Regions from separate parts of the Homo sapiens genome. Here region 2 is linked to region 1. Evidence: fine-mapped expression QTL. A gene starts in region 1. The other region holds a variant in brackets. All regions are shown on one strand. Distances are between the middles of the regions.

Region 1 (5,371 bases):
TGAAGAGAGAGAAGCGACTCCTGCGGCTCCTGCAGCCCCGCCTCCCCAGCCCACTGTAGGCCCGCCCCCACAGGGCTGCTTACAACTGTGAGGGCAGCGCCAGTGCCCCCACTCCAGTCAGCCGGCCACGCTGTGGCCAGTACAGTCTCCCTCTCCCGCCAGAGCTGCCCATGCCACCCAGCGTCTGCCTTCATGTCCACCTAGAGTTGTCTGCACAGCCCAGAGTGCCTGCCCCCTCTGCGGGCAAGCCCGTCCACACTGCCTGGAAAGTCAGTTCTGTCTCTGGCCCAGCAATGGAGTTGGGCTGTGAAATCAGGCAAAACCTAGTCCTTCCAAACCAAGGGACCAGGTCAGTTAACCGGGGAGCTAGGGAGGAAGGCAGAGAAGCCAGGTATGACTCACCCACCATGTGTCGCGGCCTGGGTGCACACCACTGGGATTCTCGCACATCCCATCCTTCAGTCGCTTTGTGTTTATTGAGCACCTCCTGCTGCAGGACCTCCATGTCTGCTACATACACAATGCTCACAGGCTTGCTGGTCCCATCCTTCAGTCGCTTTGTGTTTATTGAGCACCTCCTGCTGCAGGACCTCCATGTCTGCTATATACACAATGCTCACAGGCTTGCTGGTGTCGCTTTGCTTTACAGATAAGGAAACCGAGGCTCGGAAAGGTGAACACCTTTGCCCAGGACAGTCCGTGCGTGAAGTGGGACAGAGTTTGGTTGGAGCTCCGGCAGCCTGAGCCCTGTCTCCTGTGAGCCCTGCATGTCCCTGGGTCGAGGCTGGGGATGCAGGGGTACGTGGGGAGGACAGGGCCTGGCCAGGAGTTGTTCTTGCTTCATGCAGGTTTGGGGGACAAGCACCCACTCCTCTCAGACCCCTCACGTACCCTTACCCTGCTCACACACACTCACAGCTGTCAGAGACTCAGCCACACACGCACATATGCGCCCATAAGACAAGGCTGCCATGGTCACAGGCTTCCTGTGTTCGGGCCTTTGTGCCTGGAGACACCCCTCACAGCCCCGTCCATCTGGGGCAGGTGCTGCCTCATGGGGCACAGAGCAAGCAAGTGACCCTCAGCCAGCATTTCTCTGTGTGGTGGCCTATGGGATGACAGACCTGTGGGCCTCAGAGGGACTGGTCGGAGGCAGTGTTGAGCTCTCGTGTTGAGGCTCCTGAAAGTAACATGATGATGACTGCATGTGGCGGTGTCCAGGTGTTCTGTGACTATGGGGCACCCAGACATAGCAAGACTCGCCACAGCAGTGACCTTACGTGGCAGCATCCAAGCTGTCCGGACATATATTAGGTCTGTGGGGCACACAGGCATGGCAAGACTCCATGTGGCAGTGACCCAACTTAGCAATGTCCAATGTCCAGGCTGTCCAGACACACTGTGACTCTGTGGGGCACTCAGATCTGATATGACCTGCATGACAGTGGCTCCATGTGGCAGTGTCCAGACACTGTATGCCCAGATGTGGCAGCGTCCAGACACTGTATGCCCAGATGTGGCAGCATCCGTCCAGCTGTGTGGCTGCCCTCCAGGTCTTCCCATCCAGGGTGGCCCTATCACTGTGACCCCCTCTCTCAGGCTCAGCAGTGGCCGACACGGGCCAGGATGCGGGCGTTGGTGGTGGCCTGCTCCCTGGCAGCCCTGGCCCGGGCTTGCTCCAGTAAGATCTGCAAGAGGCCGATGGGGACATCCAGCGATAGGACAATGCGCGAGCCAGGGTGGCGGGTGGGGCTGCAGTGGCTCTGGGCAGCCCACGGCCATGTGGGAGCAGCTGAGGGGCTCTCTGAGGCCGCAGGTCGGGGAGTGGTCTGGGGAGAATTCTGAGGGCGGAGCTGGAAGGTTGGGATAGGGGTCACTGGGACAACCAGGACTCTGCCCAACATCAGGACCATCAGCAACAGCAGAGCACACCTGGTCATCGTGAGGTCAGGCTGCAAGGAGAAAATGGGCTCAGGGCAGGGGCTCTGGTCAACTGGGGTCCATGGACAGAGACAGATGGCAAGGGCAGAGTGACAGAGCGGGGGATGGAGAGAGAGGAAGACACCGAGAAAGGGGTTAGAGAGGCCAGGCCAGGCCAGAGACAGAGAAGGGGAGACAAGAGGAGAGCCAGAATGAGACAAAGAGGCAGAAAGCAAGACAGAAAAAAAGAAACAAAGAAATCCAGAGACAGAGGGACAGCAAGAGAGGGAGATGAAGGAGATGGAGGCAGAGCAAAATGGAGACTAGAAGAAAAAGACAGACAGAAACCATCCCAGAGACAGACAGCATGATGGAAAGAAAGATTCAGACAGAAACACAGAGTCCACAGGAGGGCAGGCGGTTCTCAGCAGGAGAGCTTGCAGCTGATCCAGGAAACAGAAGGGCAGGAATCGGATCTCAGAGGCAGAAAAGCAGCCAGAGATCCCAGAGTCCCCTGGGTCCAAGCCCTCCATAAAGCCAAACCCCACATCCACTCAACCTCCAAGACCCTTCCCATCCCGACCCAACCCAGTCCTACCGCCACCAGCTGCTTCTGGGGTAAGGCAGCCTGCTGTGGCTGCCTGGGGCTGGGGCCAGGCACTACTGTCCTGTGGTCTGACCCTCTACCCCGCTTCAGGGCCCATTTATCTCCCTCAGCCCCCTGGGGTGGGAGCTGGTACATGCTTCCTGGCATGAGGCAGCCCCCCACCTATGACTCATCCCTCCCGGGGGTGTCCTTAGCCCCCACCCTATCTACTCTTTTCCGGGGACAAGTTGGGGACTGAGAATCACAAGACAGTGACCAGGACTGGGCAGAGGGACTCTGTACCCATGCAGAATAATACCAACCCCCCAAGGAAAACCTTCCCCCTTGAAACCCCCCATCTTCCCAAACAGTCACAACAGGAGCCTTTTAAAACAGCAGCTTTAATGCCCCCCAGAATCAGCACCATGTCATCACAGGCTTGGGTCAAGGGGCGGGTCAGACGCCAGTCACATCCGCTCACTGCCCACAGCCACCCCCCCACAGTGAGTCATCTGCCAGGGTGGCAGGAGCCACAATGGGGGTTTGTCCACAGGGGGGAAGGCTAGACCCACGGGACCAAGTCACTGAAATAACGGACGTGCACACGCACGCTCACGTGCACACAAGCCTCTAGCACCAAGGGGAGGGACAGTGGGGTTCTGCTGAGACCCCGACTCCTCCAGGGGATGCTGAATCTCAGCTCATTATCTGGGCCTCAGTCCTGGGCAGTACCTGGTGAGGACAGGTTGGAAACGGTCGTCAGCCATCTGACCTTCCCCGGAGACGCTCAGGCAGAGGCACCGCCAAGGGGAGGGAGCGGAGGCTACAACAGGAAGTGGGGGCTCTGACCTCAGAGGGGTCCATACTTAGGTCTTTAAAGGAGGGAACATGGAAGGGGACCCTACTGGGGGCTCCACGGCTGGGGCTCTATATTCAGCTCTTTGGTCTGGGCGTCTGCCCCAGGTCCCCTACTGCGAGGGAGCGTCTCCTCCAGGACCCTGACCTGGAACCCTGGCCCAAGGACTCCTCCCCCAGAACCCGATCCAGGCAGGCTCAGTGCCCAGTTCCCCACGGTGGGGGCTCAGCCCATACCTGTCCCCTGGCTCTGGACCACCCGGGGTGGGCAGCGGCGCTCGCAGGCCTCACGGGTCCCAAAACGGTTGGCATTCCCTCCACAGCCACCATAGACAAAAGGGTGACAGGCCTCTGTGCTGCCTGTCACAGCCCGATGGTACCAGCGCAGGGTGTAGGCAGTGCAGGAGCCCTCATCCAGTGGCAGGGAACAGGGGTCTGGGCCAATGGGGTCAAGTCAGCAGGGTTTGTGGGAATCAGAGAGGGTTGAAAGGTCAGGGGGAGGTCAGCAGGGCTCAGCCCTGCCTGCCCCTCCCCAGACCCCGCTGGCAGCCCCCCATTCTCACCATCACTATCCCAAGGAGCTTCAGGGTCCTGGTACTCCTCCACAGAATACTCGGAGTATTCAGAGTACTCATCATCCTCAGGGGGTACCCGCTCTGCAGGTAGGGCAGGGTGTGCTGGGAGCAGTGGCTGCTGGCCCCGGGGCAAGGTGGGCAGCACTGATTTCCACTGTGTGCACACAGTGCCCATGCGTGTGCCCTGCATGCAGACCCTACGTGCTTGGCGTGTGCCCTGCATTCATGGACACCCATGTGCGTGTCTCGGCCCCACCCATAGCTGCCCCACGGGTTCAGCTGTCCTCACCTTCCTCCTCTGCATGAGAGACGCGGAGCACAGGCACAGCATGGAGCTGGGAGCCGGCAGTGTCTGCAGCATAACTAGGGAGGGGTCCTGGAGCCAAGAGCAGGGGCCTCAGGGCCCTGAAGTCACCATGGGCAGCCATCCCAGCCAACCCCCCTGAGAGGACCCCAGTTGATAGGCAGGGCAGGGCCTGGGGTGAAGAAAGTTCTGGGAGTAGAAAACTACTCACGTGATCCAGATGCGATGAACTGGCCCTGGCAGGCTAGAGGGGGCAGAGAGGGATAGAGAGACAATGACAGAGAGAAGGATGGGAAGATGGAGAGACAGACAGAGACACACAGGCAGAGGGGTAGAGATACACAAAGAGATAGCAGGAGAGGGTAACAGGAGAGAGAGGAAGAGAGAGGGTGGGAGGTAGATAGAGAGATGGAAAAAGAGAAGAAGGCAGAGGAGAGGGAAGTTGGGAACAGGCCAACAAAAGGCAAGAGACAGAAGCAGGCCAGACACAGAAACAGGCAGGTGGTGCAGACAGAGACGGGAAGAGACAGCTTCACTCTGATGCCCCTCCCACCGGGTCCAGGTCAGGCCCAAGGGGACCAGCTCTGCTCCCACCATCATCCCACTCCCCACACAGCCAAGCTGGACATCTGAGAGCACTGCATGGCAATCCTCATCTGCCTGTGTGTCTCCCTCCACTGGGGACACATGTCATGTGTCAGTCCTGCAGCACATGTGTCCTTCTGTGTATCCATCCATCCCCCCATCTTCTTGACTGCTTGCCCTGTAAGTTCTAGGGGCCTGCCTGCCCTTGCCTAGGGTGCTGGGGTGGAGTGGGAGACTGCGGGCTGGGCACCACTCACCACAGTGCTGACTCATCTCTTGGCGCACAAAGCCCCGGATGTCATCCTCCTGGGAGCAGAAGACCACAGGGACCATAAAGAACCCATGGCCCACAGGAAGGACATAGGGCACATAATACAGGGACTATGGTGAGACTGCATGGAGCCAGGGCCCAGGGGTCAGGGTGCTGGGTGAGGGAGGTAGGGCCCCAGCCCACCCAGGCCCACCCAGGCCCTCCCAGGCCCATCCAGGCCCACACTCACCGTCAGTGCAGCTTCTCCCTTCTCGCCTCGAGGACCGGCAGGCCCT
Region 2 (5,371 bases), 71 kb before region 1:
TCAGCCATCATGCTTGGCAGCGCTATTTTCAAGGTGCAGTGTTCTTAAAGACAAGAAAAGGACCTCAAAGACAATTCAATCATCAAGGCTGCCACTCCCACCACAGGCCCAGAGTGCACAGGCCGGAACCAGGTTGCCGCCACCTCCGTTTTTTTTGTTGTTGTTGCTTTTTTTCTGAGACGGAGTTTTGCTCTTGCCACCCAGGCTGGCTGGAGTGCAATGGCGCAATCTCGGTTCACTACAACCTCCACCTCCTGGGTTCAAGCGATTCTCCTGCCTCAGCCTCCCAAGTAGCTGGGATTACAGGCATGCGCCACCATACCCAGCTATTTTTGCATTATTAATACAGATGGGGTTTCTCTATGTTGGTCAGGCTGGTCTCAAACTCCTGACCTCAGGTGATCCGCCCACCTCGGCTTCCCGAAGTGGTAGGATTACAGGTATGAGCCACTGCACCTGGCCGGCCACCTCAGTTTTGAAGGCCAGGACCACCACCCAGCAGAGCCATGGGGGTGCAGCCCCCATCACAGTGGGTCCAGAGGGCAGAGTGTCCAGCCAAAGAGGATTATTCCCAAGGCTTAAAGTCTACTGGAGTTTGTCTTGCTAGAATTTAGAATTGCCTGGCACTGAGAACTAAACTCTGATTTTTTTTATCTCGCCCAAATTCCTATCTAAGGGGCCTGGGGAGTCATGCCCTACAAATCATAAATTCTCATCAAATGGGTTTTATTTAACCCTATATATCATGATTTACTTTCCAACCTGACTCTGGCATAACATTAAGAGACAAGGAAAAAAAATCAAAACATTTTACCCCAAAACATGTTTCTTTGCCATATTTTGAAATGACCTTGCAAAGCTGTTCTCTATGGGAGAAAATGTGCATCTGTAAAGAATCTCTATTAACATAGCTAGATCTTTTCCTTCCAGACCCTCCCAATCCTAAAGAGAGTAACTAAAATCTGAATAGGAAACATTTGTCATCTATTGTCTCTAAGGGCAGCCACTAGAAGACTTCAGAAGAACTTTGGGCTCCACAATCTTTATCTTAATCTGAACATTCCTTTTCTATCAATCAATTTTGTCTTTAGACAAACTCAACCAATTGTCAAACAGAAAACGTTTAAATTCACTTATAGGCTAGAAGCTCCCCACCCTCCCAACCCCCCGCCCTTTGAGTCGTCCCACCTTTCTGGACCAAACCAATGTATTTCTTCTTTTTTTTTGAGATGGAGTCTCGCTCTGTCGCCCAGGCTGGAGTGCAGTGGCGTGATCTCTGCTCACTGCAAGCTCTGCCTCCCAGGTTCACGCCATTCTCCTGCCTCAGCCTCCCGAGTAGCTGGGGCTACAAGCGCCCGTCACCATGCCCAGCTAATTTTTTGTATTTTTAGTAGAGACGGGGTTTCACCGTGTTAGCCAGGATGGTCTCGATCTCCTGACCTCGTGATCCGCCCGCCTCGGCCTCCCAAAGTGCTGGGATTACAGGTGTGAGGCACCGCGCCCGGCCTAACCAATGTATTTCTTTAATGTATTTGATTGATGTCTCATGCCTCTCTAAAATGTATGAAACCAAGCGGTGCCCGGACCACCTTGGGCACATGTTCTCAAGACCTCCTGAGGGCTGTTTCACGGGCGATGGTCACTCATATTCGGCTCAGAATAAATCTCTTCAAATATTTTAGAGTTTGGCTTTTCGTTGACAGCACCTATCACTTCCTGCTGTTTTCGTTTGTTTGTTTTTGTTTTGTTTTGTTTGAAACAAGGGTCTCACTCTGTCCCAGGCTGGAGTAGAGTGGCACGATCTCAGCTCACTGCAACCTCTGCCCCCACCAAGCTCAAGCAATTCTCCCACCTCAGCCTCCTAATAGTTGGGACCACAGACGCGCACCATCATGCCTGGGGATTTTTTTAGTAGAGATGGGGTCTCACCATGTTGCCCTGGCTACACTTCCTACTGATTTCTCTCCCTTTTGTAATAGGGGTGGCTATCCTTTGCCTGTCCCACAAATGCATTTCTGGCTTCACAGGTTTCACAACTGGAGATAAATTTTGCCTCAGGATGAAATGTACCTATGGTCTCATTCATATCTGATTTTGATAATATGTGAACAAGGCTTTGCACTTTAGAGTTAAGAGTAGTTGATGCTGGAATGAGTTAAGACTGCTCAGGGTGTGGAGGTTGCAGTGAGCTGAGATTGTGCCACTCCACTCCAGCCGGGAACAGAGCAAGACTCCATCTCAAAAAAAAAAAAAAAAAAAAAAAAAAAAAAAAAAAAAAGGCCAGGCGCGGTGGCTCACGCCTGTAATCCCAGCACTTTGGGAGGCCGAGGCGGGCGGATCACGAGGTCAGGAGATCAAGACCATCCTGGCAAACACGGTGAAACCCTGTCTCTACTAAAAATACAAAAAATTAGCCGGGCGCGGTGGCGGGCGCCTGTAGTCCCAGCTACTCAAGAGGCTGAGGCAGGAGAATGGCGTGAACCCGGGAGGCGGAGCTTGCAGTGAGCCGAGATCGGGCCACTGCAGTCCCGCCTGGGTGAAAGAGCGAGACTCCGTCTCATAAGAAAAAAAAGAGGTAATTAGGTTTAGATGAGATCATGAGGGTGAAGCTGCCAGGATGGGATTAGTGTCCTTATAAAAAGAGGAAGAGAAATTCGATTTCTCTCTGCATGCATGCACCAATGTTCGGAGGTGAGCAGGTCTGTACAAGCCTTCGCCCAAGGAAGCTGAGAAGCTGAAGAAAGAGGCTGACAAATCCAGTTTCTCAGAAACATTTAATAGGGACTTCTTAACCTCAGATCCTGGGCTTATAAACCACAGGGAATTGGTCTAAGGGCAGGATTTATGGTAAGTATGTGAAAGGCATTAGAGGCATTCCCAGAACTGGGGTTAATCAGAAGTCAACATGGGCAGATTAGCATCCAAGATGGAGTTGTTTTCAGCCTCCACAAACAGGGAAAGGCCACGTGAGGAC[A/G]TAACCAGGAAGAAGGCCCTCACCAGGATCATGCCAGCACCCTGATCTTAAACCTCCTGCCTCTAGGACTGTGAGAAATGTTTGTTGTTTAAGCCACACAATCTACAGTATTTCCTAAAAGCAGTCTGAATGGACTAAAACACATGAAACTTTCCTCATGTTTCACTAAGGATATGCTGGGCCATAAAATGTACTGAAATCTTGAAAACGGCACAATGGGGTATTACAACACAACCACCAAAATTGCTAAAATTAAACTTTCGGCTGGGTGCAGTGGCTTACACCTGTAATCCTAGCACTTTGGGAGGCCAAGGTGGGCTGATCACTTGAGCCCAGGAGGTCAGGACCAGCCTGGGCAACATAGTAAGACCCCTTCTCTACAAAAATAAACAAAAATTAGCCATGCACCATGGCGCATGCCTGTAATCCCAGCTGCTCGGTAGGCTGAGGTCAGAGGATGGCTTGAGCCCAGGAGGTAGAGGCTGCAGTGAGCTGAGACTGTGCCGCTGCAGTGAGCTGAGACTGTGCCACTGCACTACAGCCTGGGTGACAGAGTGAGACCCTATCTTGGAAAATAAATGAATAAATTAATAAATTAAATAAATAAATAAATTCCTTAGAAATGGCCATGATCTATTCTTTTTTTTTTTTTTTTTTTTTTTTTTGAGACAGAGGCGGCTCTGTCATCCCGGCTGAAGTGCAGTGGCACAATCTCGGCTCACTGCAACCTCTGCCCACCGGGTTCAAGCGATTCTCCCTGCCTCAGCCTCCTGAGTAGCTGGGATTACAGGTGTGTGCCACCACACCCGGCTAATTTTTCTATTTTTTAGTAGAGATGGGGTTTCACCATGTTGCCCAGACTGGTCTTGAACTCCTGACCTCATGTGATCCACCCGCCTCAGCCTCCCAAAGTGCTGGGATTACAGGCATCAGCCACTGCACCCATCCGATTTCTTTTTTAACTGACAAAAATTGTATATATTTATAGCGTACAAAAATGATGTTTTGAAATATGTATATATTGAATGGCTAAATTGAGGTAATTAGCATATGCATTACTTCACGTACTTACCTTTTTTTGTGGTGAGAACACTCAAAATCTACTTCCTTAGCAATTTTCAAGTATACAACATATTATTATAAACTATAGTCACCATTATGATGTACAATAGATCTCTTGAACTTACTCCTCCTAAGTGAAATTTTGTGTCCTTTGACCAACATCTCCCTAATCCTGCCACCTCCTAGTCTCCGGTTACCACCATTTTATTCTGTTTCTATGAGTTTGACTTTGACACTCCACATATAAGTGAGATGGTGCTGTATTTGTCTTTCTGCGCCTAGCTTATTTCACTTAACATAATGTTCTCCAGGTACATCCATGTCATCATAAATGACAGGATTTCTGGATTTCCTTTTTTTTTTTTTTTTTGAGATGGAGTTTCACTCTGTTGCCAGGCTAGAGTGCAGTGGCATGATCTCAGCTCACTGCAACCTCCGCCTCCCGAGTTCAAGGGATTCTCCTGCCTCAGCCTCCAGAGTAGCTGGGATTACAGGCGTGCACCACCACCAGCTAATTTTTGTATTTTTAGTAGAAACGTGGTTTCACCATGTTGGCCAGGATGGTCTCGATCTCCTGACCTCGTGATCCACCCCCCCTTGGCCTCCCAAAGTGCTGGGATTACAGGCGTGAGCCACTGCACCCAGCCAATTTCCTTCTTTTTAAGGCTGAATAGTATTTCGCTGTGTACATATACCACATTTTCTTTATCCATTTATCCTGATGGACAGGTAGATTGATTGCATACTTTGGCTATTGTGATAATGCTGCAATGAACAAGGGAGAGCAGGTATCTCTTTGGGGTATGGATTTCATATCCTTTGGATATATACGCAGTGATGGGATGGCTGGATCATATGCACATGGTAGCTCTATTTTTAATTTTTGGGGGACCCTCCTACTTTTTTCCATGACAATGATTTATATCTGGTCTAGCATGTTGTATACATGAAATGTATACATCTGTTAAAACTCATCAAACTGAAACATGAAAGATCTGTGCATTTTACTGTATGTAATTATATATCTATTTTTTTTTCTTTTTAGAGACTGAGTCTTGCTATGTTGCCCAGGCTAGCCTCCAACTCCTGGGCTCAAGCGATCCTCCTACCTCAGCCTCCCAAAGTGCTGGGATTACAGGTGTGAGCCACTCCACCTAGCCTATATCTCAATATTTTGAAAAAGATTTATAATCCAAGTTTTGAAGAGGATGTAGAGCAAACTGGAACCCTCACATATGGCTGGTGGGAGTACAAATGGCACATTTATAACATGTTGGAAAGCTGTTTGGAAGTTATCTGCCTAAACTGAACACATTCACATAATAACTTAGTAAT

What was found. PIP is the estimated chance that this variant, and not a neighbour inherited with it, causes the effect.
Region 2: its variant is the best candidate, but not a certain one, in a credible set for the expression of UCN2 in esophagus mucosa (GTEx, PIP 0.60).

What each region holds. Positions count from the first base shown.
Region 1 is chr3:48,561,185-48,566,555 of GRCh38, forward strand. UCN2 (urocortin 2) reads right to left here and starts at 2,597. Exons shown (of 2, transcript NM_033199.4): 1 at 2,519-2,597; 2 at 534-1,952. The coding sequence starts at 1,940. The coding sequence ends at 1,602. COL7A1 (collagen type VII alpha 1 chain) reads right to left here. Exons shown (of 119, transcript NM_000094.4): 113 at 5,326-5,371; 114 at 5,083-5,131; 115 at 4,452-4,484; 116 at 4,226-4,312; 117 at 3,925-4,017; 118 at 3,599-3,796; 119 at 2,889-3,238. The coding sequence ends at 3,222. It also overlaps a transcript of PFKFB4 not described here.
Region 2 is chr3:48,489,911-48,495,281 of GRCh38, forward strand. The region is part of intron 2 of SHISA5 (shisa family member 5); the gene reads right to left. Among named protein-coding and RNA genes, the nearest start is that of SHISA5, 12 kb to the right of the region's middle. The variant A/G (reference allele first, on the strand shown) is at 2,975.